7 linked regions of the Homo sapiens genome follow. The protein of the gene in region 5 purifies or fractionates together with the protein of the main gene of each other region. This does not show direct contact. Each region holds a gene or a part of one and is shown on either strand. Other genes may lie near its edges.

What was found.
Region 1: the proteins of VSTM1 (region 5) and MROH1 purify together in Homo sapiens (affinity purification with mass spectrometry; one large-scale study listed by BioGRID and IntAct). This does not show direct contact.
Region 2: the proteins of VSTM1 (region 5) and STEAP2 purify together in Homo sapiens (affinity purification with mass spectrometry; one large-scale study listed by BioGRID and IntAct). This does not show direct contact.
Region 3: the proteins of VSTM1 (region 5) and RAB35 purify together in Homo sapiens (affinity purification with mass spectrometry; one large-scale study listed by BioGRID and IntAct). This does not show direct contact.
Region 4: the proteins of VSTM1 (region 5) and FASTKD1 purify together in Homo sapiens (affinity purification with mass spectrometry; one large-scale study listed by BioGRID and IntAct). This does not show direct contact.
Region 6: the proteins of VSTM1 (region 5) and ZDHHC18 purify together in Homo sapiens (affinity purification with mass spectrometry; one large-scale study listed by BioGRID and IntAct). This does not show direct contact.
Region 7: the proteins of VSTM1 (region 5) and GOLGA5 purify together in Homo sapiens (affinity purification with mass spectrometry; one large-scale study listed by BioGRID and IntAct). This does not show direct contact.

What each region holds. Positions count from the first base shown.
Region 1 is NC_000008.11:144,235,016-144,238,515, forward strand, and holds part of MROH1 (maestro heat-like repeat-containing protein family member 1), read left to right. Parts: intron 1-3,500. UniProt on the Homo sapiens protein: Lysosome fission factor. Recruited to lysosomes by RAB7 (RAB7A or RAB7B) at scission sites and homooligomerizes to mediate the constriction and scission of lysosomal tubules. May sever membranes by inserting amphipathic helices into one bilayer leaflet.
Region 2 is NC_000007.14:90,228,740-90,232,239, forward strand, and holds part of STEAP2 (metalloreductase STEAP2), read left to right. Parts: intron 1-1,132; coding exon 1,133-1,297; intron 1,298-3,500. UniProt on the Homo sapiens protein: Integral membrane protein that functions as a NADPH-dependent ferric-chelate reductase, using NADPH from one side of the membrane to reduce a Fe(3+) chelate that is bound on the other side of the membrane.
Region 3 is NC_000012.12:120,103,254-120,106,753, forward strand, and holds part of RAB35 (ras-related protein Rab-35), read right to left. Parts: intron 697-3,500; coding exon 573-696; intron 1-572. UniProt on the Homo sapiens protein: The small GTPases Rab are key regulators of intracellular membrane trafficking, from the formation of transport vesicles to their fusion with membranes.
Region 4 is NC_000002.12:169,560,366-169,563,865, forward strand, and holds part of FASTKD1 (FAST kinase domain-containing protein 1, mitochondrial), read right to left. Parts: intron 2,986-3,500; coding exon 2,860-2,985; intron 421-2,859; coding exon 22-420; intron 16-21; exon of another isoform or gene 1-15. UniProt on the Homo sapiens protein: Involved in the down-regulation of mitochondrial MT-ND3 mRNA levels which leads to decreased respiratory complex I abundance and activity.
Region 5 is NC_000019.10:54,050,398-54,053,897, reverse strand, and holds part of VSTM1 (V-set and transmembrane domain-containing protein 1 isoform 1 precursor), read left to right. Parts: intron 1-923; coding exon of another isoform or gene 924-999; intron 1,000-2,449; coding exon 2,450-2,488; intron 2,489-3,500.
Region 6 is NC_000001.11:26,833,188-26,836,687, reverse strand, and holds part of ZDHHC18 (palmitoyltransferase ZDHHC18), read right to left. Parts: intron 1-3,500. UniProt on the Homo sapiens protein: Palmitoyltransferase that catalyzes the addition of palmitate onto various protein substrates, such as CGAS, HRAS and LCK. Acts as a negative regulator of the cGAS-STING pathway be mediating palmitoylation and inactivation of CGAS.
Region 7 is NC_000014.9:92,807,805-92,811,304, reverse strand, and holds part of GOLGA5 (golgin subfamily A member 5), read right to left. Parts: intron 2,006-3,500; coding exon 1,786-2,005; intron 1,052-1,785; coding exon 928-1,051; intron 1-927. UniProt on the Homo sapiens protein: Involved in maintaining Golgi structure. Stimulates the formation of Golgi stacks and ribbons. Involved in intra-Golgi retrograde transport.

The sequences.
Region 1 (3,500 bases), on a different chromosome or scaffold from region 5:
CCGCGTAGCTGGGATTACAGGCGTGCGCCACCATGCCCAGCTGATTTGTTTTTGTATTTTAGTAGAGACAGGGTTTCACCATGTTGGCCAGGCTGGTCTCAAACTCCTGAGCTCAGGCAGTCTGCCCATCTTGGCCTCCCAAAGTGCAAGGATTACAGGCATAAGCCACTGTGCCTGGCCTACAATTATTCTTTCATATCGATCTTGTATACTGCAACCTTGTTGAACTTGCTTATTTTAATAGTTTTTATTGGATTTCTTAGGATTTCTATAAGGATTGTGTCATCTACAACTATAGTTTTACTTCTTTTTTTTCAGTCTGGATGCGTTTTATTTAATTTCCTTGCTTAGCTGTCCCAGCTAGAACGTCCAATACTGTTGAATAAAATCGGTGCGAGCAGACAGCCTTGTCTTGTTCCTTCTCTTTGTGTAGAAGCATTTAGGCCGGTACCATCAGGTATGATTCCTGCTGTGGGGCTTCATCAGGTCACAGGTACCACCTTCTAGTCCTGCTTTGCTGAACGGTTTTGTTATGAAGAAGTACTAGATTTGATGTGCTGTTTACTGTGTCTAAGATGAGCTTGTCGTTTTTGTTCTTTATTTTAGTGATATGGTGCATTTCATTAAGTGATTTTCAGATGTTAAACCTGCATTCCTGGGATAAATCCCACTTGGTCATGGTGTATAATCGTTTTTATACATTGTTGTGTTCAGTTTGCTGGTATTTTGTTGAGGATTTTCATGTCTATGTAAGAGATCATGGTATATGCTTTTCTTATGCCTTTGTATGATATTTGTAATCTGTACACACACATATAGGTACATACATGCACAATTTTTTTCCAACTCATTTGGGAGAAAATTGAGACATCGTGTCCCTTTATCACTGACTACTAAATATCTTGTTTATTTCCTAAGAATAAGGACATTGTTCTACACAACCATAGTCCAGATGTTGGAATCAGGAAATTCTACATGGAGACCATAATGTCACCTGATCCATGCACTTCCTCGGTCATCCCAGTTCTGTCCCTTTAGCTGCTTTCTGGTATAGGGTACAGCCCAGACACATACATTATGTGGCTGCTGTGCCCTGTTAGCCTCCTGCCCTTGTGTTTGTTGACCTGGATACTTTCAAAGAATTGAGACCAGTTATTTTGTTGAATAGCTCAGGTATGGTGGTGTTTTCTCATGATTTGATCCAGGTGATGCAGTTTTGGGAGGAATCTCATGGAATCGTGCATGTCCCCACCAGTGTATCATATCGGGGGTCCTAGTGTTGGTTTGTTTCAGTGTTGATCTTGTTAGTTCTGATCACTTGTCTATGCTCGGTTTCTGCACTGGAAAGTTGCTGTTTCTGCCTTGTAATAAATAAGTAGTTTGTAGGGAGATCTTTGGGATTAAGTAAACATCTTCTTGTGATTAAACATTTAGTCAGCATCAGGCCGGGTGCGGTGGCTCACGCCTGTAATCCCAGCACTTTGGGAGGCCGAGGTGGGTGGATCACTTGAAGTCGGGAGTTCAAGACCAGCCTGGCCAACATGGTGAAACCCCATCTCTACTAAAAATACAAAAAATTTAGCCAGGTATGGTGGTGGGCGCCTGTAATCTCAGCTACTCGGGAGGCTGAGGGAGGAGAATTGCTTGAACCCGGGAGGCAGAGGTTGCAGTGAGCTGAGATCACCCCACTGCACTCCAGCCTGGGTGACAGAGCGAGACTCCATCTCAAAAAATAAAATAAAATAAAACAAAATAAAATAAGTAAATAAACACTTAGTCAACATCAATTGTTTTTAATTATCTATGGATGGTTTTCTAACTCCAGTGATATTGCTGTACTTAGTTCTTTGGCCTCTGTTGTGACAGAGCCTCTCCTATTCCTTTTTTTTTTTTTTTTTTTTTTTTTTTGAGATGGAGTCTCGCTCTGTCGCCCAGGCTGGAGTGCAGTGGGGTAATCTCGACTCACTGCAAGCTCCGCCTGCCAGGTTCACGCCGTTCTTCTGCCTCAGCCTCCCGAGTAGCTGGGACTACAGGCGCCCGCCACCACGCCCGGCTAATTTTTTGTATTTTTAGTAGAGACGGGGTTTCACCGTGTTGGCCAGGATGGTCTCGATCTCCTGACCTTGTGATCCGCTCAACTCGGCCTCCGAAAGTGCTGGGATTATAGGCATGAGCCACCACGCCTGGCCAGAGCCTCTCCTATTCTTATGTGCATGCATCTCTCTCCGCATGGACTCGTGGTTTGCTGTTTGACGCAGGGGTCCATGCGCAGTCCCTGTTGCTGGCCTTGGTGTTCAAACTGTCCCACACTTGGTCGGTAGCACCCTTCGAGCGCGCAGGCCCCTGTCCTGAGGCCCTGTTGCCCTTTCTGGCGCAGGACGGTGTCCCAGCTCACCTGGGGCTGCCCGTGCCTCTGCTCTGCGGACCCTTCCATGAGCTATTGGTCTCTTGTTTCTGGGAAGCTCGCTCCTTTATTTCTTGAGTATTTCTTGCCCCTGTTTTTGTGTCTCACTGACTTTGGTGTATCTGTTATCCGAAGGCTAGCACTGCTGTCTTCACATCTTTTAGCTTTTTCTTCTTCCATTCTTTTTAAATTTCTTCTTCCTTGAAGTCTTCGGCAGCCTGTTCTTCCAAGTTAGTAATTTCTTCCTCAGTGAATCGTTACATTATTCGTTTCCTGAATTGAATTCTTTATTTCACGGTTATACTTTTTCACACCCTGTCGCTGGGATTTTCCTTGTTCTTGGCTCCTCATTTCCCCGTTGTGGTTCCTTGTTTCCCTGTTGCGGTACTTTTGGTGCATTTTTTCGCACAGGCATTGTCCCCAGTCTGTGTCCTAACGTTCGTGTTTCTGGTGGAGTATGTCCTCACTGTTCGTTATCAGGTATTTTGCAGTTTCTATTTGGTTTCTTTATTAACGCAAATGATTCTTTTATGATCTTTAAAATCTCCAGGTCGATAGGTTTTCATGGGTGTTGTGGATTTATTGTTATATTGAATCTGGCCAGGTTGATTTCTGCTTTTAAGTGTTGGTTGCAATATTATTTTTGGCCTAATGGTCAGGATTTCAAAGTGTATGTTTGGTATGAAGTTCTATCTATATTTTTAGTGCCTACTGTAAAAATTGAAGTTCAAGGCCTAAATATCACTGTTTTTTTTTTTTTTTCTGTGTGACTTTCAGCTTCTGAAAGAGAGGGATTAGAAGTCCCTGCAGTGTTGCCATTTTTCCAAATATGCCGCTTTGTGGTTGAGCTTTTACTTTTTGGTATTTCAAAACCTGAATGGAACGTGTGGGAAACAGAAGTCGTCTGCTTACAGGGACGCCTTCTGGGGAGCTGAGCGTACAGAGAGGACAGCAGACATCCAGCCCACCGTGGCTGCCGAGGCTGGGTGGCGTCCTGGTGGGAACCAGGTTTTCTGACATGGGTAACGTTCCCACAGAGGCTATCCTGTTCCTCCCCTGCAGGCATTGCAACCTCACGAGCAGTGATTTTTTATGG
Region 2 (3,500 bases), on a different chromosome or scaffold from region 5:
CTAGATTTGAGCCTAGACATTGTGGACACTCAAACAGCCCATTTGTGGATGAATGAATGAACTGGGAGAGCAGGTAGATCCAGGTTGTAGTCTCCGAGTACACTGGGTAGTGCTGTTTTTCTGTATTGTATAGATATCAAATAAGAAGATGGTAAGAACTCTGTGGCCTCTTTCAAGATGATGGTATGATTGCCTTAGGGAACTAATAGCTAAGAAGCAGCTTTTCGTTGTTAAATTTCAAGTATGTTTTGTTAACTGGAATTGGACAAAGTTAAACTGTTGTTAAGTTAGAATCTGTTTTCCATTAATAGATACTTATTTAAATCAAAAATTTCAGCTGAAGGAGTCCAATACTTGATTTATACTCTAATTATATTCTGAATGTAAATAGAACTTCTAAAGGTAGTCCCTACACAAAATACCACAAATTCAGAGTTCACCGTCTGACTTGATTATATACACATTATCAATGTAAGGAAAAGACATTTGGAAAAAATACTGCATATAAATGACACAATTGGATAGTTGGGGATCATATTAAATGAGGCAGTTCAAGTGGATAAATGAGCTCCATTGGCCTTTATAGCTAGGGAAATCACAGCTTTCTAGGAAGAGAAGATGAGAAGAAAGATAAAACAGAGATATATTATTCATGTGATGGAAGAAGATACTGACATAGTTTAGAAATTCCCTGACCGGATCCAAGTTGAACTAAGGCCAGACTATATCCCAGATATTCAACCAAGTTTAAACCAGCTTGTAATAGTACTTCAAAACTAAGTTTAACTGTCAGTAACTTCTTTTGTGTCACCCTAGAACCAACTACTAGGTATTTTATGGTGTTGGATTCCAGAGTCCCTGTAATGATGATGGCAAAGCTTTGCCCCTCTATTCTAGCACGTATACAAGGAAAGAGAAAGTTTTGTCCTCCTTTTGTTTAATTCTCTTTTCCCTTACACCTGGAGCAGTATCATCCAGTAACAGGTTCTCTGTAATGGTTTGTTAGACTAAATTAGTACAACTTAAATACGTCCATATATGACCAGGTTCTTCTTATGCCAAGAGTGAACTCTGTGCTGAATCAGTTAATGTTCTACTAAATAAAGGAAATTCACATTCGCTTTCTTGTTAGGTTCATGCAAATATTGAAAACTCTTGGAATGAGGAAGAAGTTTGGAGAATTGAAATGTATATCTCCTTTGGCATAATGAGCCTTGGCTTACTTTCCCTCCTGGCAGTCACTTCTATCCCTTCAGTGAGCAATGCTTTAAACTGGAGAGAATTCAGTTTTATTCAGGTATGTGGGGTTTTGTTTGGTGAAGGATTGTGCAGGATAGGATTTCCTTGTTAAGAACAACTGCATTTTAAATATGTTCCTTATTAAAAGGGTGCCTTTGAGGCTGTATTTATGCATCTAGATACATTATGCTGGAAGCCAGCTTAGGATTGCTCTGGTTAAATAAGTGAAAGACCAGTCAGTATATGATTGTACTGGAAGACTTTGACAGCACTGCCTTCCAGTATACTATGTTAAGAACAAAAAAGTTATCTTAAAAGAGAAAAAAAAAATGAAAGTTGGGAAGGATGAGCTTAGATCAAATTTAATGTTGAAAGTCAATTTATTATTAGCCAAGTGAATGAAAAATTATTTTATGTTTTGAGTCATCTTGATTTGTCCAGAAAAATCTTATTAATTTGAACTCAAGTGGGGATGTCAATCTGAATATTTTAAAGAAATGTGTGTATATATACACACACATACAAACACAAGCAGTGGCAAACTAGGTAACTAGAGTAATGGATTATAACATGCAACCAGCCTTAAGAATTTTGTTAGTATATCAGTAGTATACTAATACGTATGGATGTCTGTAAAGGGATTTCAAACCACCATTGTATTCTTTAATAAGTTAAACATTCACCTTCTCCAATAATATCTAAATAATAAGGTTGCATATTTTAAAAATATATAACTGAAACATAGACCCTTCCTATATTTTCACAAAATCTGTACTGGTTGTATCCAAATGGTTTACAGCATAGTAGACAGATTCATGTCCTTTGGTGGTACACTTAAGTTTTGTTTCAATTCATTGCTTATTTGCTTGTTTTTTTTTTTAAGGTCCTGTAAAAATCTCATTCAAAGCAGGGCCAAAATGCTTATCTGAATTTATTTTTCCTTTTTGAAGAAAAGGGAGAGTACTTTCCCAACAGCTAGTTTAATCATACCCGAAAAGAAATAGAAGGTTCTAGACAGATGCAAATTATCATTATAAATTTAGATGAGTAATTGCAAATATTTTGCCTGCTGGAGGGTTGATATTTTCCAGTAAAGTTAGACATTACATCACTATACTGATGTAATATTACTTTTATATAACAGACTATTCTTCAAAGTAAGCACTCTTAAACATAATAATTTAGCGAACTAAAGAATGATGAGCTTTTAGAATTTAAACTGTAAAGTGCCTAACTGAAGTATTCTTAATAAACTCTATATTTTAATTGTTGTTTATATTAATACTGCAGGATTTTTCATATTTGCCTATTAACCAGTGTGTATATATGTGTGTGTGCCCATGAGGATGCTCATTTAATTTTAATTTAATTTAATTAATTTTAATAATTTTAAATTAGTTTATTTAATTTTATCATATGTCTGTTTATGTATTAACAGTGATGTGTTACCTAACAGTAGGGAACGTTCTGAGCAATGAGTCGTTAGGCAGTTTTATCATGTGAACATCATAGAGCATATTTATACAAACCATGACCTATTGCTCCCAGGCTACAAACCTGTACAGCATGTTACTGTACTGAATATTACAGGCACTTGTAACACAATGGTAAATATTTGTGTATCTAAACATATCTAAACAGAGAAAAGGTACAGTAAAAATAAGGCATATAATCTTATGGGACCACCGTTGTATATGCAGTCCATAGTTGACCAAAATGCCCTTATGTGGCACATGACTATATTTATGTGTATGTGTATACACACACACATACATACACATTTCTTTAATACACAACTGGTGGGAATGTGAATAATTTTTATAAAGAAGAGTCTAGCAGTATGTATCAGTACCCTTAAGGAAAAGCTAGATGTTTTGACCAATAATCCTACTATTAGAAACCAGTCCTAAGAAAATAAATCAAAATATGGAAAATGGCCTAACATGACATTTATAGTTGAGGAAAGTTGGAAACAGTGAATTATCAACAAAAAGGAATGGTTTAATAAATTATGCACATCCATTCAATAGAATATTATACAGTATTAATGTCATTTTCATATTTAATGACATGAGGAAAATGTTCTTGATAAAATAAATGAAGTAGTAAGAATATTAAACTGTATGCAGTAGGGCCTTATTTGTGTAACATAAGGTGTGCATATAAATAATACATATATATGCATATATAAAAATATTAATATTATTTAATTCAGTAGAGGACAAAGGTTAACTTGATAATTTAAGACAAAATAGTTTTAT
Region 3 (3,500 bases), on a different chromosome or scaffold from region 5:
GGCCTGCAGCTCAGCCACAAAGGTGGGCAACCGGTGGGCGGCCGGATTTCCCAGGAACAGCTTTAAGGGTAGGGAAGGGCCTGCTGACATGCACCGTGTTCGTCTCTAGACAGCGTCACTTCCAAGGCATCAGTGCAGGTGACGGGAGCCTGCACAGGCCAACTCCAGCTGCCATAACTGACACCTACCAAGAGGAATTGTCAGCGACTAAGTCCTGGGTGGGCAAGGCACTTCGCAACCCCCTAGCGAGGCAAATGCTATTCTGCTCTCTCTGTAAGGTGACGGCACAGTGGGCCGGAGGGTCGGCTGACTCTCCAAGGAGATAGAACATGGCCACTGTCCGGCCAGACTCCAGCCAGGGTGCTCAGCGACTCCCCCACAGCACCCCCCTCACATCTTCAGGACCAGGAAGGGTGCAGCCAAACGCCACCTACTACAGCCAACAACAGGCTCACTTCCCGACAGCCTCAGGGACCCACCAGTGACATTTCCACCATGACCAGGCACCGGTCGCTCAACTGTGTCCACAGGTCAGTGGCGCGGGTTGGGTGGGAGTGGGCGTGTGGACTCACGTGGAGGTGATGGTGCGGAAGCGCTCCTGCCCCGCTGTGTCCCAGATCTGCAGCTTCACCTTCTCCCCGTTGATCTCCACGGTCCGGATCTTGAAATCCACTCCGATCGTGGTGATGTAGCTGCCTGCACACACAGGGCAGTTAACGAGGCCCAGCGCGGTATCTTCCCAGGCCCTGAGCCCCACGCTGCACACAACACACCCCCAGGCTCCCCCACCCTCCCGACTCATTACATGTGCCTGGTACATTCTAGGTCCCAGGGACACAGCCCTGAACATCCTTGTTCACAAGGCCCCTCCACACACAAGTGAAGGAGGGAGACAGGATGCAAGCAAACAAACAAAGAGGACAATTTCCGAGAGTGAAAAGTGACACATAGGAAATAACACGGGATGGGACTGGCGGGAGTGGGACAGGCTCCTTTAGAGTGGCTAGATGGGGACACACCAGCTATGTCTGAGAATGGTAGACCTACGGGCACTCTGGGTTTTTCTTTTCTATTCAAGTCAAAAAAAATTTAGGGCCCTCAAAATTCACTTCCAAACACACAAATAGGTCATGAGCTGCAGTCTGAAAGCCACTGCTCCAGGCAGGGGAGACAGTAGCAAAAACAGCCGTGAGTGGGGGCGGTCACATGAGGTCAAGCCTGCCGCCCAAGGCAGGCAGAAAGTGGCGAGGCCAGATCTTGGACCTGTGTGCCACTTCCAAGAACGTGGACTTTCTCTCGTGTGTGCTGGGGAGGCACCAAAGGGTTTTAATCAGTGGCATGAGCTGCTGCATTTTAAATAGCTCTCTTGCAGCATCTGTGGGAAAAATGGATTTTTTTTGGTGGGGGGGGGACAGCGTCTCATTCTGTCGCCCAGGCTGGAGTGAAGTGGGATTGCACCCTTGACCTTCCCCCAGGGTCTGATAATCCTCCCACCTCAGCCTCCTGAGTAGCTGGGACTACAGGCATGCGCCACCACGCCCGGCTAATTTTTGTGTTTTTAGTACAGACGGGGTTTCACCATGTTGCCCAGGCTGGTCTCAAACTCCTGACCTCAAGTGATCCGCCTGCCTCAGCCTCCCAAAGTGCTGGGATTACAGGCACAAGCCACCGTGCCCGGCCTGAAAGATGGATTTGAGGAGAATTTCTAGCCGGTGTAATTGCCCAGTCCAGCTTTCCAAAGCCTGACACTAGGAAGAGCACAGCTTCTCACTCCATTTGGGGCTTATGCTATAACAGTGCAGGAGACACCACACACACACACAATTATGTGAAATGTGGCAAGGGCGTAGGAAAGGTCAAATTCCAAGGTGGGGTGGGGAACAAGGCAGGCTTCAGGGAGGACGTCACATCTGGGCCTAGCTTGAAAGAACAGGTAAGACTTCAAAGGTTGAGATTAGGTAGGGGAACGACATCCCACTCAAAAGCAAATAGCTGAGGATGATACGCAACCAGAACACATTCAGAAAAGCGGCCAGCACCCGGGGTCTTCCAGCCAGGGGAACGCCAAGGAGTGCAGCCCACTGCCTAGCACAGTTAGGCTCCCCAGAAACAGCTGGTGGCTAACGAACCAAGCAAGCCAAAGAACAAAAGAATGACCAGGGGGTAGGAGGAAGCCAGAAAGGCGAACTGAAAACAGACTACGAGCGCAGTGGTTCTCAGCCGGGATGACTGTCCCTCCAAAGGACACTCAGCAATGTCTGGAGGCATTTTTGGTTGTCACAGCAGGGGGAGGGAAGTGTTGCTGGCATTTAGTGGGTGGAGGCCAGGGATGCTGCTCAACATCCTTCGACACGCAGGATAGCCCCACAACAAAAATCACAGGGCCCAGACCCGGCGCGCTGGCTCACGCCTGTAATCCCAGCACTCTGGGAGGCCGAGGTGGGCAGATCACGAGGTCAGGAGATCAAGACCATCCTGGCTCACATGGTAAAACCCCGTCTCTACTAAAAATACAAAAAATTAGCCAGGCGTGGTGGCGGGCACCTGTGGTCCCAGCTACTTGGGAGGCAGGAGAATGGCGTGAACCCGGGAGGCGGAGCTTGCAGTGAGCCAAGATCACACCACCGCACTCCAGCCTGGGCGACAGAGCGAGACTCCGTCTCAAAAAAAAAAAAAAAAAAAAAAAATCACAGGGCCCAAAGGGTCAACAGTGTCCAAGTGAAGAAATCTTACTGTAAACTCTGTGCAGGTGAGAGGGGCCACTGAGGTTTTTAAACAGAGAAAAGACCCTACCAGACACACACATGAGCGGTTCAGGGTGGGTAGGGGTTGCCGTAATGCTTCCAGGTAGAACCAACAGTAAACTGAGATGCTGGTCGTAGAAATGGAAAGGTGGGAAGAGATTGCAACAACAAGCCCTCCAAGCACTGAACACAGATTGGGATGGGGAGGGAGGAGGCCATTAAGGAGGAAGAGGAACATTTTTTAGCATAATTAGAGGCTGTTAATCAGCTATCATTCTTAAACAGAAGGTTAACAGCCAGTCGCAACAAATAGCTGGTATTTATTGAGCAATTACTTAGTCCCAGGCACTGCAACCTGCACTATCTCAGGTCATCCTATAACAACCCCATGGGGAAAGGACCATTATGATTTCTACTTTACACATGAACTGAGGCTTCTATTTTACAAATGAACTGGCTAAGGTCACACAGAGCAGCCATCTCTTTCTAACACCACACCACTAGTGAGATTGCAGGGACAGTGTCAAGGAAACAAAGGGGGCAAAACCCACTTCTCCACCAAGAGACATCAGCTATGGAATCACTTTCTTTTTCTTTTTTTTTTTTTTTTTTTGAGACGGAGTCTCACTCTGTCGCCAGGCTGGAGTGCTGTGACAAGATCTCGGCTCACTGCAACCAACTCCCTGGTTCAAGCGATTCTCCTGCCTCAGCCTCCTGAGTAGCCGGGATTACAGGCACATGCCGCCACACCCAACT
Region 4 (3,500 bases), on a different chromosome or scaffold from region 5:
TGCATTTTAAACTGAACTTACTGTTTCTTTTCTTCAGGTCCTGCAATGGGTCCCAATGCTACAAACAATTTTACAAAGCTAGCAGGATGATTACACAGAGGAATCATTTCAGTTAGCTTCTTTTTAGCCATTATAATAAATTCAAAACTATTAAATTGTAGAAATTTGTATACACTAAGTATTTTACTGATGGAATCCAAATCAAGGTGGTCCACATTACTTAAAAATACGTTATTACATCTTTCTAATAGTGGTTGATAACGATATCTAACATTTCGAAGAAACTTTGCTATGCTTTTTGCAACGTTGACCTCAGAAGAATCTATGGTGTCAAAAAGAAGTTCTGTTTTGTTCACCAGTTGTTGTTGAAAATGTCGTGATATTAAAGAAGATATGTTGACCATCAAGACAGACAAGGAACTGAAAAAGAAAAAAGATGCAAAGATTTTTACATCAATTAAGAATGATCAATTCTTTTTTTTTTTTTTTTTTTTTTTTGTAGAAACAGAGTCTTGCTATGTTGCCAGGGCTGGTCTCAAACTCCTGGGCTTAAGCAATCCTCCCACCTCAGCCTCCCAAAGTGCTGGGATTACAGGCATGAGCCACTGCACCCAGCCACATAAGTGTATTTTTTTTAAAAAAAAGGCAAGGGGCTGGGCATGGTGGCTCATGCCTGTAATCCCAGAACTTTGGGAGGCCGAGGTGGGCAGATCACTTGTGGTCAGGAGTTTGAGACCAGCCTGGCAACATGGTGAAACCCCATCTCCACTAAAAATATAAAAATTAGCTGGATGTGGTGGCGAGCACCTGTAATCCCAGCTACTCAGGAGGCTGAGGCAGGAAAATCGCTTGAACCCAGGAGGCAGAGGTTGCATCATTGCACTCCAGTCAGGGAAACAGAGGGAGACTCCATCTCAAAAGAAAAAAAAAAAGGCAGGGAAGTAGGGTGGAGTGGGGCAAGAAGAGCAGGAAACTACTATAATTTAATTTTACCAAAGTGCTAATCACTTTGTAAATATGAGAGAAAAAGCTGTATCTGAAACGCCAAAGACAATCATAGTACTGGATTATGAAGGTTAGCATTGACAGTAAGTAATCTTATGTTAAAAACAAAACAAACCCTCAAACCACTGGTATGAAAACCAGAGAAACTCCTTAAATGTTAGTTTCAAATTAATAGTTCCTTGACATTCAGCAAATGTAACTATTAACTCTCCTTTATGAAACTGAAAAGAAAGTATTCCCAGATGGAAAGAATAAAAAAGACATAATTGTATGTAAAATTTGTGAATTTGTTTATAAATTAATTATAAATTAATCCATTATAAATTATTAATCTATTATAAATTAATTATTAATCTATTATAAATTAATTATTCATTATAAATTATTTATTAATTTATTGTAAATTATTTATTAATTTATTGTAAATTATTTATTAATTTATTGTAAATTATTTATTAATTTATTGTAAATTATTTATTAATTTATTGTAAAATAATTATTTATTAATTTATTGTAAATTATTTATTATAAATTATTTATTTATTGTAAATCAATTATTTGTTAATTTATTATAAATTAATTATTAATTTATTGTAAATTAATTATTCATTAATTTATTGTAAATTAATTATTCATTAATTTATTGTAAATTAATTATTTATTAATTTATTGTAAATTAATTATTTATTAATTTATTGTAAAATAATTATTTATTAATTTATTGTAAAATAATTATTTATTAATTTATTGTAAATTAATTATTTATTAATTTATTGTAAATTAATTATTTATTAATTTATTTTTTGGTTTTTTTGGATTTTGTTGTTGTTGTTTCAAGTTTTGTTACTGTTTTTTTTTCGTTTTTTGTTATTGTTGTTTTGAGACAGAGTCTTGCTCTGTTGCCCAGGCTGGAGTGCAGTGGCACAATCTCAGGTCACTGCAACCTCCACCTCCCAGGTTCAAGTAATTCCTGTGCCTCAGCCTCCCGAGTAGCTGGGATTACAGGCGCCCGCCACCATGCCCAGCTAATTTTGTATTTTTTGTAGAGATGGGATTTTTGCCATGTTGGCCAGGCTGGTCTCGAACTCCTGACATCAAGTGATCCACCCACTTCGGCCTCCCAAAGTGCTGGGATTACAGGTGTGATCCACCATGCCTGGCCAATGAATTCATACTTAATTTAAATACTTCTTGGGTTTACTTCATGATATAATAATAATACCTACTATCCATTACTGAGAAACTTCTATGTTCTAGATACTTATTCAGAGGCCATTTTCAGTGGGTTTCTGACTGCCTTTGTTCAGAACTATCTTTTCAAGGATGTTTGCATAGCAAACAGCCTAGGAGAATAGAGATAATGTCTCCTGTTGGAGCAGAGTAGGCATGCTTTATTATAAAAGATTCAGGTTTCCTAAGCTCAGAGCTCCTCTCCTGGATCACAACCCATTATGGGAACGAGAGCTCAGGGAATCAACACAAGAAAATTCTGGTACTCTGCTACTGCTATTGCTATAAAAAACAAAGTCCTCTCTCTGACCTCGGAGTCTCAGGCCTTCCTACGGCACACGTAGGAAAATGTGGCAGGCAAACTTAGCTTGCAAATAGGTAAAAACTCAGATCCTCCACAGACCTCAACAATATTGTATTACACTTTATGTACCTTATGTCTAATCCCCACAGCAATATTGCAAAGTAGCTATTACTATCCCTCTTTTGCAGATGAGGATAACGAACTTCCAAGAGCTTAAGTAACCTTAAGTCACATAAACTAAGAGTAGCAAATCTGACTGCATCCACATCCAAAGCCCAGGATCTTTCCACCACAACACAAGATTCCCTAAATAAATTTACCTTAAGTCCTGTGTGGTTTCCAAGTTCCTATGAACAATATCAGCTATTTTTCCCATTAATGGACTAAAATACAAATGCTGATCTGCTAGGCAAGAGGAAAATTCTGAGAGCAGTTTAATATCAAACCTATTAAAGGAAATATACAAAGGAGAACATTAGTATTTACTTTCACTTAAAACACATAATATATAGTTATAAAATTAAAAGCAATCAAAATAGTAAATTACATAAAATTTTTTTTCTAAAATGTTATTATTATAAAAGTAACATGGCAACAGTTAAAAAGTCAGATACTGTAGAAAGGTTTTGAAAGGGGGAAAATCACTAAAAATTATTTGAATGATTTACTTAATTTTTTTAGATGACAGAACAATTTTGACTCAAGGTTGCATATTAACAAATATAATGGCTGCTACTACAACAGTGCTATGAATTTTTTTAATAGGAGAAATAATCCAATTTCTTCAACAAGAAAATGGCAAGACAAAAGAGAGGAAAAAGGAACTGTTATAGATTTTATGACTTTGAATTCACTAAAAAACAAGCATAAGAAAATTCACAGCAACACATATGTAATAGCAAAACCCTGCAAAAAACCCGAATGTCCATCAAGAGTACAATGGATAAACTGCACATACTCA
Region 5 (3,500 bases):
CACATTCTTCTTTGGAAGAAAGAAAGAAATAAGAGCAAGCTATCAGAGTAATTAAAAAACACATTATAGATGGAGAATAACTGTGAGAGGCATTGTATTAGTGATCTACAGCTGCATAACAAATTACCACTAATTTAGCAGCCTGAAACACCTATTTATTATCTCACAGTTGATGTGGGTCAGGAGTCCAGGCACAGCTTAGCTGAGTCCTCTGCTTTGGGTCTCATAAGGATGCAATCAAGGTGTCAACAAGGGCTGTGTTCTCATCTGGCTCATCTGGAGGCTTGACTGGGGAAGGGTCCATTTCTCCACTCCTGTGGTTGATAGCAATATCTGGTTCTTTATAGCTGTAGGATTCATGCTAGAATGATTCTGCAGCACTTGCAAGAAGAGAGATTGAGAGAGAGAGAAGAAAGAGAGAGCAAATGCCCTAGCAAACAGAGTTTTATGTAATGTAACATAATCAAGAGCATAACATCCCATCACCTTTGCCATAGCTATTGGTGAGAAGAAAGTCACAGATCTCCACACTCAAGGTGAGGGGATTAGACAAAGGCATGAACACCAGGAAGCAGGGCTCCTGAGTCTCCTGAGTGCCCCCTTAGGGTCTATCTGCCACAAGCATGAAGGATGAGAATGACCCAACCACACCGATATCTGGAGAACAGCCCTCCAGGGAGAGAGAGCAGCAAAAGCAAAGTCTCAGAAGTGTGAGTGTTCCTGGAATGATTGAGACACAGAAAGGAGGACATAAGGCAGGGCCTAGAGCATCTAGGATCTTGTGGGTGTTTGAACTGGTCCTAGAGTCTGCTTTGAAAGAACAGGAACCCACTGATGAAGTTGAGCTGGAGGATGGCATGATTTTATTTATATGCTGGAAGGGTCACTGGCTGCTTTTTTTTTTTTTTTTTTTTTTGAGACAGGGTCCCACTCGGTTGCCCAGGCTGGAGTGCAGTGGTGCAATCACAGCTCACTGCAGCCTTGACCTCCCAGGCCCAGGTAATCCTCCCACCTCAGCCTCCCAAGCATCTGAGATTACAGGCACAGGCCATCATGCCCGGCCTCTGGCTGCTTTTGGAAAATAAGGGACTAGATGTAGTAAGAGTTGGTGCGTTTCAGGCAATACGACTTTTTAAATTTAAAAATATCAAATTGACAAATGAAGATTGTATATATTCAAGGTATACAATCTGATGATTTGATCCACCTGTACATTGTGTAATGATTATCACAGTCAAATTAATTAGCACATCCATTGCCACCATGCTGAGCACCTGAACTTCTTCATCTTAGAACTGGAAACTTATACCCTTTCATCAACATCTCCGCATATATCATGCTAAACAAAATAAGCCAGACTCAGAAAGACAAATTCTGCAGGATCTCACTCATATGTGTAGTCTAAAAAAGCCAAACTCACAGAAGCAACTGGTGGTTGCCAGGGACTGGTGAGTAGGTGATATTTCATTTCATTTTTATTTTTATTTTTATTTTTTTTTTGAGACGGAGTCTGGCTCTGTCCCTCAGGCTGGAGTGCAGTGGCGCGATCTCGGCTCACTGCAAGCTCCGCCTCCCGGGTTCACGCCATTCTCCTGCCTCAGCCTCCCGAGTAGCTGGGACTACAGGGGCCCGCCACCACGCTCGGCTAACTTTTTGTATTTTTAGTAGAGACGGGGTTTCACCATGTTAGCCAGGATGGTCTCGATCTCCTGACCTTGTGATCTGCCCGCCTCGGCCTCCCAAAGTGCTGGGATTACAGGCGTGAGCCACTGCGCCCGGCCAAGTAGGTGATATTTTAACTTAGACTAAATGGTGCCACTGTGGAGATAGAAATATAGGCCAGGTGCAGTGGCTCATGCCTGGAATCCCAGTATTCTGAGTGGCCAAGGCAGGTTGATCACTTGAGGCCAGGAGTTTGAGACCAGCCTGGCCAACATGGTGAAACCCTGTCTCTACTAAAAATACAAAAATTAGCAGGGTGTGGTGGCGGGCGCCTGTAGTCCCAGCTACTTGGAAGGCTGAGGCAGGAGAATCTCTTGAACCCGGGAGGCGGAGGTTGCAGTGAGCTGAGATCATGCCACTGCACTCCAGCTTGGGTAACAGTGCAAGACTCAAAAAAAATAAAAGAAAGAAAGAATTTGGGTGAATGGTGTTCTTTGTCAAGATAGAGAAGACTGGCAAGGAATCAAACTGGAGGGGGCGTTAGCAGGGTCATTCATAAATATTTTTGTTATTAAAAATACTATCAAACTCCAGGACTATTAAGAAGAGTAATCTGAGGCTCTGTCCATGCTCTGAGGACCCAGGGAGCATCTAGGGAATGGAGAAGCCATTCTCTTTTCTGCTTCCCAAAGAAGAACAGGATGTCTATAAGTAGGACGTGAGGACTCCTGTCCCCAAGGTTCCTGTATGATTAGTGTAATTCCTTTTCTTCCCTCCTATTTTCTAGATAAACACGATGAACTTGAAGCTCCCTCAATGAAAACAGGTAAGATAATTAGAAAGGAGATGTTTTTCCCAATGAGATCTGCTTCATGATCACCTTTGCTTAAAGTGCACAAGGAGAACTTTATTTATTTGTTTGTTTGTTTGTTTGTTTGTTTTTTGAGATAGAGTCTCGCTTTGTCACCAAGGCTGGAGTACAGTGGCGCAATCTCAGCTCACTGCAACCTTCGCCTCCCGGATTCAAGCAATTTTCCTGCCTCAGCCTCCCGAATAGCTGGGACTACAGGCACGCACCACCACACCCAGCTAATTTTTGTATTTTTAGTAGAGACGGGGTTTCACCATGTTGGCCAGGCTGGTCTCGAACTCCTGACCTTGTGATCTGCCCGCCTCAGCCTCCCAAAGTGCTGGGATTACAGGCGTGAGCCACCGCACACGGCCTATTTATTTTTTTGAGAAAGAGTCTTGTTCTGTCCCCCAGGGTGGCGTGAAGTGGCACAATCTCAGCTCACTGCAACCTCCACTTCCTGGGTTCTGGGTTCAAGCAATTCTCCTGCCTCGGCCTCCCGAATAGCTGGGATTACAGGCACCCACCACCATATCCAGCTCAGTTTTGTTTTTTGTTTTTTGTTTTTAGTAGAGATGGGGTTTCACCATGTTGGCCAGGCTGGTATCAAACTCCTGACCTCAAGCAATTCCCCCGCCTCGGCCTCTCAAAGTGTTGGGATTACAGGCATGAGCCACCGCACCCGGCCTAGAAGAACTTTAAAGCCCATTTTCTCAATGTTATTGGGGAAACTGCTGTGTTTTGGGGGGTGGAGGATGAGGGGAGATAACCTCTAAAGTGCTTCCGGGTTCTGAAGAAGCTGGTGTGTAAAACAGCACAGAGTGCGTTGTTTGCCATATGACATGATGAAAAACTAGGGTGGGATTTGGGGAATAATGGGGGTGAATTTTTCAGTGACCCATTTGGGGAGTAGGACCAGGACCTACGCAGAGTAGGTACTTCAGGAATATATATAATCAAGAGTTTGTTATAACTCTAAAATTCTCAA
Region 6 (3,500 bases), on a different chromosome or scaffold from region 5:
CTGAGGCAGGAGAATGGCATGAACCTGGGAGGCAGAGGTTGCAGTGAGCTGAGATTGTGCCACTGCACTCCAGCCTGGGCAACGGAGCAAGACTCCGTCTCAAAAAAAAAAAAAAGAAAAAAAGAAAAAAAAAGAAATGAAGGTACAAGGCGGGATGCAGAAGGAAAAATCACAAAGGCTGGACTCATATCACTGATATGCTGAGGGCACCAGAGAGTCACCCAAATTCTGTGGGGTTTGTGGGGGGACAGGGCAGGGGTGGGGAGAACAAATTTGGGATCTTGGAGAGATAACTACAATTGAAGGGAAAGGCCCAGTCAGGGCCTGTTCTGCAGAGCCCTGAGCCAGTTCAGGTGGAACACGAGGCAGGTCTGTCCAGGGGAAGTGGGCAGAGACGTCCTGGAGACAAAGGAGATGGGGTCTGGGAGCTGGTGTATGGCAGTGGAGAGAGACGCAGCCTCTGTGTCCGTCATGTGAACTGTAACAGGGTCTAAGTGAGCATCTGTCACTTGGATTTGGATGTCTCTATCACCTCCCATCAGACCAGGAGCTTCTGGGAGCAATATTGCTCTTCCCAACTGCCTAGAGCCTGCAGGGTGAGCCAGCTGCACAGCCCACCAGCCGGCAAGACAGGATCTCAGATGAGGGTGACCGAGTGCCCTGATTTTCCTGGGATTGAGTGGTTTCCTAAGACAGGAGACTTTCCAGGTGGTCCTGGGTAAACTGGGAGGAGCTGGTCACTCTACCTCAGACTGTCCCCACAGGGCAGGAGCCCTGGGCCAGACCTGTTGGGCTGGAGTTGCTGGGCTGGGGTGCCAAAGGGAAAAGCCCACACTGTCTACATGAGCCTAGGACCAGGTAATCAGTTCATGCTCACATGAACAGCACCACCTGCCTCAGAGACAGCTCCCAACCTTCTGGAAAAGGTTCAGTGATCTTAGTCCTGATCATTTTCGGGGAAATATGTTTTTGGTTTTTTTTGTTTTTTGAGACGGAGTCTTGCTCTGTCACCAGGCTGGAGTGCAATGGCGCAACCTTGGCTCACTGCAACCTCCGACTCCCTGGTTCAAGCGATTATTCTGCCTCAGCCTCCTGAGTAGCTGGGATTACAGGCACACGCCACCATGCCCAGCTAATTTTTGTATTTTTACTAGAGACAGGGTTTCACCATGTTGGCCAGGATGGTCTCAATCTCCTGACCTTGTGATCCGCCCGCCTCGGCCTCCCAAAGTGCTGGGATTACAGGCGTGAGCCACTGTGCCAGCCCTGGGAAATATGTTTTACTTTAATTAGTTAGAAGTCTCCTGGTCACACCCAAAAATTTGGCTTCTATTCAAGTTTGAGAATTCAAAGGCCTCCAAAATGCCACTTTTGCACTTTGCACCTGTTCGCCAAGAAAAGTCTTAGGGACATTCAGCGCCCTACAAGATTGATTCCACCCCATCCTTCCAACTGGAATATCTCTAATATCCCTAACTATCTGAAGTGCTCCTCATATTCTAGCCAACGTGGCCTGCTCAGTGGCCCGTTCCCATCCCTCCTCCTTCCCTCTGCCACTCTCTCTTCCCTCAGCTTTGTCTGCCTGAAGGGCTGCCTCCGCACAGCTCCTGTGCTTGAATTCCACCCAAACTTAAAGACTTAGCTCAAGCATCACTTCTCCAGGAAGCTTCTCCAGTCCCCCAGGCAGAAGATGCTCCTGACTCCTCTGACCCTCTTCTAAAGCCTGATCTCACTGGCAGTGGCTGGTCAGGGCTCCCACCTGGGGCCAACTTGTCTGGAACCCATGAGAGTAAGCTCCTATCAGATTCATTGTTGGCCCCCACCTGCCTTCACTCTGCTGTCAGGGGTCAGCATATAGAATTAACACACAAATGAACAAACCCATGATGCCCAACTGGGAGATGTCCTGACTGTTTCCTCACCTGTCACCCTGACAGAGCAAGGAGGGCCTTCACAGAAGCTCACCTATTCTTCAGTCATTCATTTACTCATTTAGCCAACGTCACTGAGCCTTCTACATGGCGACAAGGTGAACAAGATGCTGGAATTCCATGCCCTCACAGGCCAGCAGAAAGGATGATTTTGTAATGACCACCGTTGCAGCACAGGTTCAGAGAAGGAAGGAGAAGGTGCTCTGGGAATGTGCAATGGAAGGCCTGGCCCAACTGGGGTCAAGAAGGCTTCCCAGAGCACAGGAAACAAGTGGAGAAGAGGATGAAGGAGATGTGTCCCTGCTGCCATCTCAGAAGAGAAAGCAAGGGGTTTGGGAGTGAAAGGCACACACTCTGTCTCTGCTTCTTTATCCTGGCCCTGTGATCACCTGCCTCCGTTTCTCCATCAGTACAATTGGTTAACAGGGTCGCCCTCACTGGGCTGTTGTGAAGATTTGTGGGGATAATAGATGGAAAGCACTCAGCACACGGCCAAGCTCTTTCCAAGAAGGGGATTACTGCTGTCACTGTGATCCACGCAGCTCACAGGAGGCCGAGGATTCCAGGCAGCCAGACCTCTGGGTCCGGCTGAGCTGGACAATAATCCTGCCTCATGATTAGCCCTGACCAGAAGGGGAGGAAGAACGGGGCACAGCTGGGCCTCCCCAGCTGCCAGGTGGGCCAGCCCAGGTCAGACCGTGGGATCCTGAAGGAGTGGCCAGGGACCCAGAGTTTGAAGGGGTAGGACGCTGGATGTAGGTGAGAGGAGGTGGCCCTCGCAGGCGTGGCTGAGGATGGGGCTGGGCAGAGGAATGAGACAAAGAGCAGACAGAGCCCAGAGAACATCCTCTCCAGCTGCTCGCCCTCCCTCCCTCCCTGCTGCACAGAGTATTAGTGAAATGATTTCTAGCGATGGATGCAGCAGGGCTCTGACATTTACAGGCCACTAGATGTCTTCAGGGCCAGCTGGGTGTTTAAAAGCCTGTGTGAACACCATGCTGTTAGGGGAAGGAGCTAACCACGGACCGGAAACCCCCGAGGTGTGCAAGTAGCCACGTCACTTCTCAGCAGGAAGAGCTGGGGTGCAGCAAGCTGAGATTAGGGACCTGGCCCAGTACCCCGCCACCCCGGAACCCACACAGCAGTCTGAAAGGAATCAAGGGCCACCTGGGCTGCCTGGGAGCACAGGGTCTTTCCAGCCACTGCCGTTCCTCACACACGCCCAGGCTGTTTGCCACTCTGGGCTTTGGCCTTACTTTTCCCAGATCCCCGTATTTCTACCACACTCATCTCCAGTGCCGCCTCCTCCTAGAGGTCTCCCCTGACCACCTGACCTAAACTAGCCCACTCCCCAACACCTACTGGGCTCTTCCCTAGATAACCCCACCGTCAAGCCCTCATCTGTTCAGGCCGGTGCTTCTTTGCTCAGATGTCACCTCCTTCACAAGATGTTCCCTGGCCACCCTATGTAAAATCACACACCCTCCCTGTAGCCTTCATCCTCCTTCCCTCCTTTCTTCTCTGTCTGATATCCTAGATATTTAATTATTTGTTATTTATTGTCTCTTT
Region 7 (3,500 bases), on a different chromosome or scaffold from region 5:
AAGCTTACTAAACTGGAATTTTCAAGATGGGTCTGGGAATCTGTTTTTTAAGAAATTTCCCAGGTGAACCTGGTCACTTGGATACTAGGTCTGGTCTGATACTAGCTGATCAACTGTTTCCAATTTAATAAGTAAATAAATAGGTGTAAATTACACCATATTTTAAAGAACCAGTATTCAAAAAATAATGTAAAATATCTCATTAATAACTTTTAATATTGACTACATATTGAAATAATTAATACTTTGGATATATTGTGTTAAAATTAAGAGACACACACTACCTGATATTTACTTTCAGGACTGAATTACTTTCACCTGTTGAAAAGCTAGCCCAGACCAGTGGTTTGCAACCCTGACTGCTCATTAGATACACCTGTGAACCTTCTAAAACCAAAGTGTCAATACCTAGTCCCTACCTCATACAATGGAATGTGACTGCATATGGAGCTCAGACAGCACAAGGTATCACACAAGTGATTCCCACGTGTAGACAGGGCTGGGACTGAACTAAATGCAAATATTCATCTAAGAGTAAAACTCTTTACATATTACATACAATTTTCTCCTGAAATAAATGAGCCAGATTAATCTGGAATCAGAAAAACTTAAATTAATAAAAAACAAATACGATCCCCCAACCATTAGCATTTAATCAAATAATGACAATGATTGTTGCAAAAATTAAGTAAAAGATGTATATCTCTAATGCACATTAACTATTTTAATTGTCTCTCAACACATAAAATTAAATACATTTAGCAAGGATCAAGCTAAATTTTCAAATATCTGATTTTTGTCACAGAAACAGAATTTTCTGAAATGCATTGCAGAATTATATTAGACAGTTAATGTGCTATGAAACAGCATAAAGTCATTTTTTCCGTGTCCAAGTAACAATAGGAATCTGCTGTCTCTCATTCTAACCTGCATCTGTTTATAGCTCTCCTGCTCTCTCTTCAGAGTGGCATCCGCTTCATGCAGTCTCTCCTGAAAAGTCTGCAGAGCTTGATTCTGCAGGCTGTTACCTTCACTTTGATCCTGCATTATTCTAAAGGAAAATGCATCATGTGAAATAACTCATGTCTACAGTGTACAAGTGATAAGGCAGAATAATTTTTAGAGCGTCAGCTTTAGTCAAGCACAAAAAAGATAATTTGACTGAAATATTCTTAGATAAATCTTTCCTTTCTAATGGAACATAATCTACATTTTTAGGCATCCAAATATTAAGTACATACCGTATAATGAAAGATTAATGACACAACAAATGCTTTTAAATTCAGAATTTGCTAACAATGCATCTCAAGGTTCAAACAATGAATCCATTTTATGTTGTTGTTGTTGAGATGGAGTTTCGCTCTTTTTGCCCAGGCTGGAGTGCAATGGCACAATCTCAGCTCACTGCAACCTCCACCTCCTGGGTTCAAGTGATTCTGCTGCCTCGCCTCCTGAGTAGCTGGGATTACAGGCATGTGCCACCACCCCCGGCTAATTTTTTTTCTGTATTTTTAGTAGAGACGGGGTTTCTCCATGTTGGTCAGGCTGGTCTCGAACTCCCAACCTCAGGTGATCCACCTGCCTCGGCTTCCCAAAGTGCTAGGATTACAGGCTTGAGCCACCACGCCCAGCCAATGAATCCATTTTAATCATACACATTTCTAACACTACCAAAAGAAATATTCCCTCTTGTAAATTTCCAAGAAAGCTAAGTTTCATAAGTGGATACACTACAATGTTTACCATTACTTGCTCATTTTTTTCATTATTCATAGAATCACCTACCGTGATTTTTCACTCTGTAAGGCTTCTAATGCTTCTGTGCGAGTACTCAGTAGCTGGTCAGCTTCCTGGAGTCTCACTTTCAGTACAGCCAGCTGGGAATCCTTTGCAGCCACAGCTTCAGTCAGGTCATCTACTTGGGCTCGGAGTCCTCGAGTCATTCGATCACTCTTTGAATGGTCAGCATTCCACTTTTCAACTCTTGCTCTTGCTTTGTTTAATTCTATTAAAAAATTTAAATTTCTCTATACAAGCAAAACCAAACACATTTTTCTCAGAGCACGTACAGTTTCTACTTTGAGTGCCTTTAGTACTTTCCTTATTGACAAAATTGGGAACTTACACGTCTTCAATTTTCTTTGCCCCAAAGGGTCATCCACTTTTCAAGGGCAATATTCACAGCTAGATTATAGTTAATTGATTAGAAAGGGGCGTGAAGCTAGCTGCTCTTCTACAATGCTGTTTCTATATGATAAAGCATCTGGGAGCCGAAACTAGTATTAATAGATAGCAGAGTATATTTTGTAAAGTTCTGCTAGTGACAGGGAAAGGAATGCAAATCCAAATCAAAGGTACATCCTAGTAAGAACAAAACAAAACCTAAACACAGAAAAGAATCTATTGCTTTCAATTACTGTTGCAAAAAGATGTTATTCTTTTGACCTAGGAAATCAATGCAAAAAGAGCAAAGTAGTGCTCTATTTCAGAATACAATGGCATTTCCATACCCTCACATACCATATGTAATTGCAGTTAGCCACCACAACATTTTAAAAATACTGAATCAAACTTTATAGGGTCTCAAAGCTTTTTTTTTTTTTCCAGTGAGACACACCTTTCTTAAAGAAAAAAAAAAAAACCCAAAAACATGAGACAGAGCCTCACTCTGTTGCCCCGGCTGGAGTGCAGTGGCATGATCATGGCCCATGACTCACTGCAACCTCCAACTCCTGGGCTCAAGCAATCCTCCCACCTCAGTCTCCAAAGTAGCTCAGCCTACAGGTGTACACCACCATATTCAGCTAATTTAAAACAAAAAAAAATTGATTTTTGTAGCCCAGGGGTCTCACTCTGTTGCCCATGCTGTTATTGAACTCCTGGCTTCAGCAATTTTCCCATCTCAGCCTTCCAAAGCGCTGGGATTACAGGCGTGACTCACTGTGCCTGGCCAAACAGCTCTATTTCTATGTCTAAATTAGTGTGGGTAAAGTAAAGCTTTTTCTAAAGTCAGCCTGACTAGTGAGTACTTTGTTTTTGTTGTTGTTGTTGTTGTTGTTGAGACGAGTCTCGCTCTGTAGCTCAGGCTGGAATGCAGTGGCACGATCTCGGCTCACTGCAACCTCCACCTCCTGGGTCCTGGGTCTGGGTTCAGGCAATTCTCCTCCCTCAGCCTCCTGAGTAGCTGGAATAACAGGCACGCGCCACCATGCCCAGCTAATTTTTTTGTATTTTTAGTAGAGACGGGTTTCACCATGTTGGCCAGACTGGTCTTGAACTCCTGACCTTGTGATCCGCCCGCCTCGGCCTCCCAAAGTGTTGGGATTACAGGCGTGAGCCACCACGCCTAGCTTAGTGAGTCTTCAACTATCTTCCCTTTCCTCTCTTCTAGGCTCTATCCATGGCTTGGCAAAACTTTTCCCACCATCCCCTCACTCCTTTCTAATTAGCCCCAGGAACCAAGGCAGCAATTTTGTCACTCGTTTTCTTCTCAGCCACAC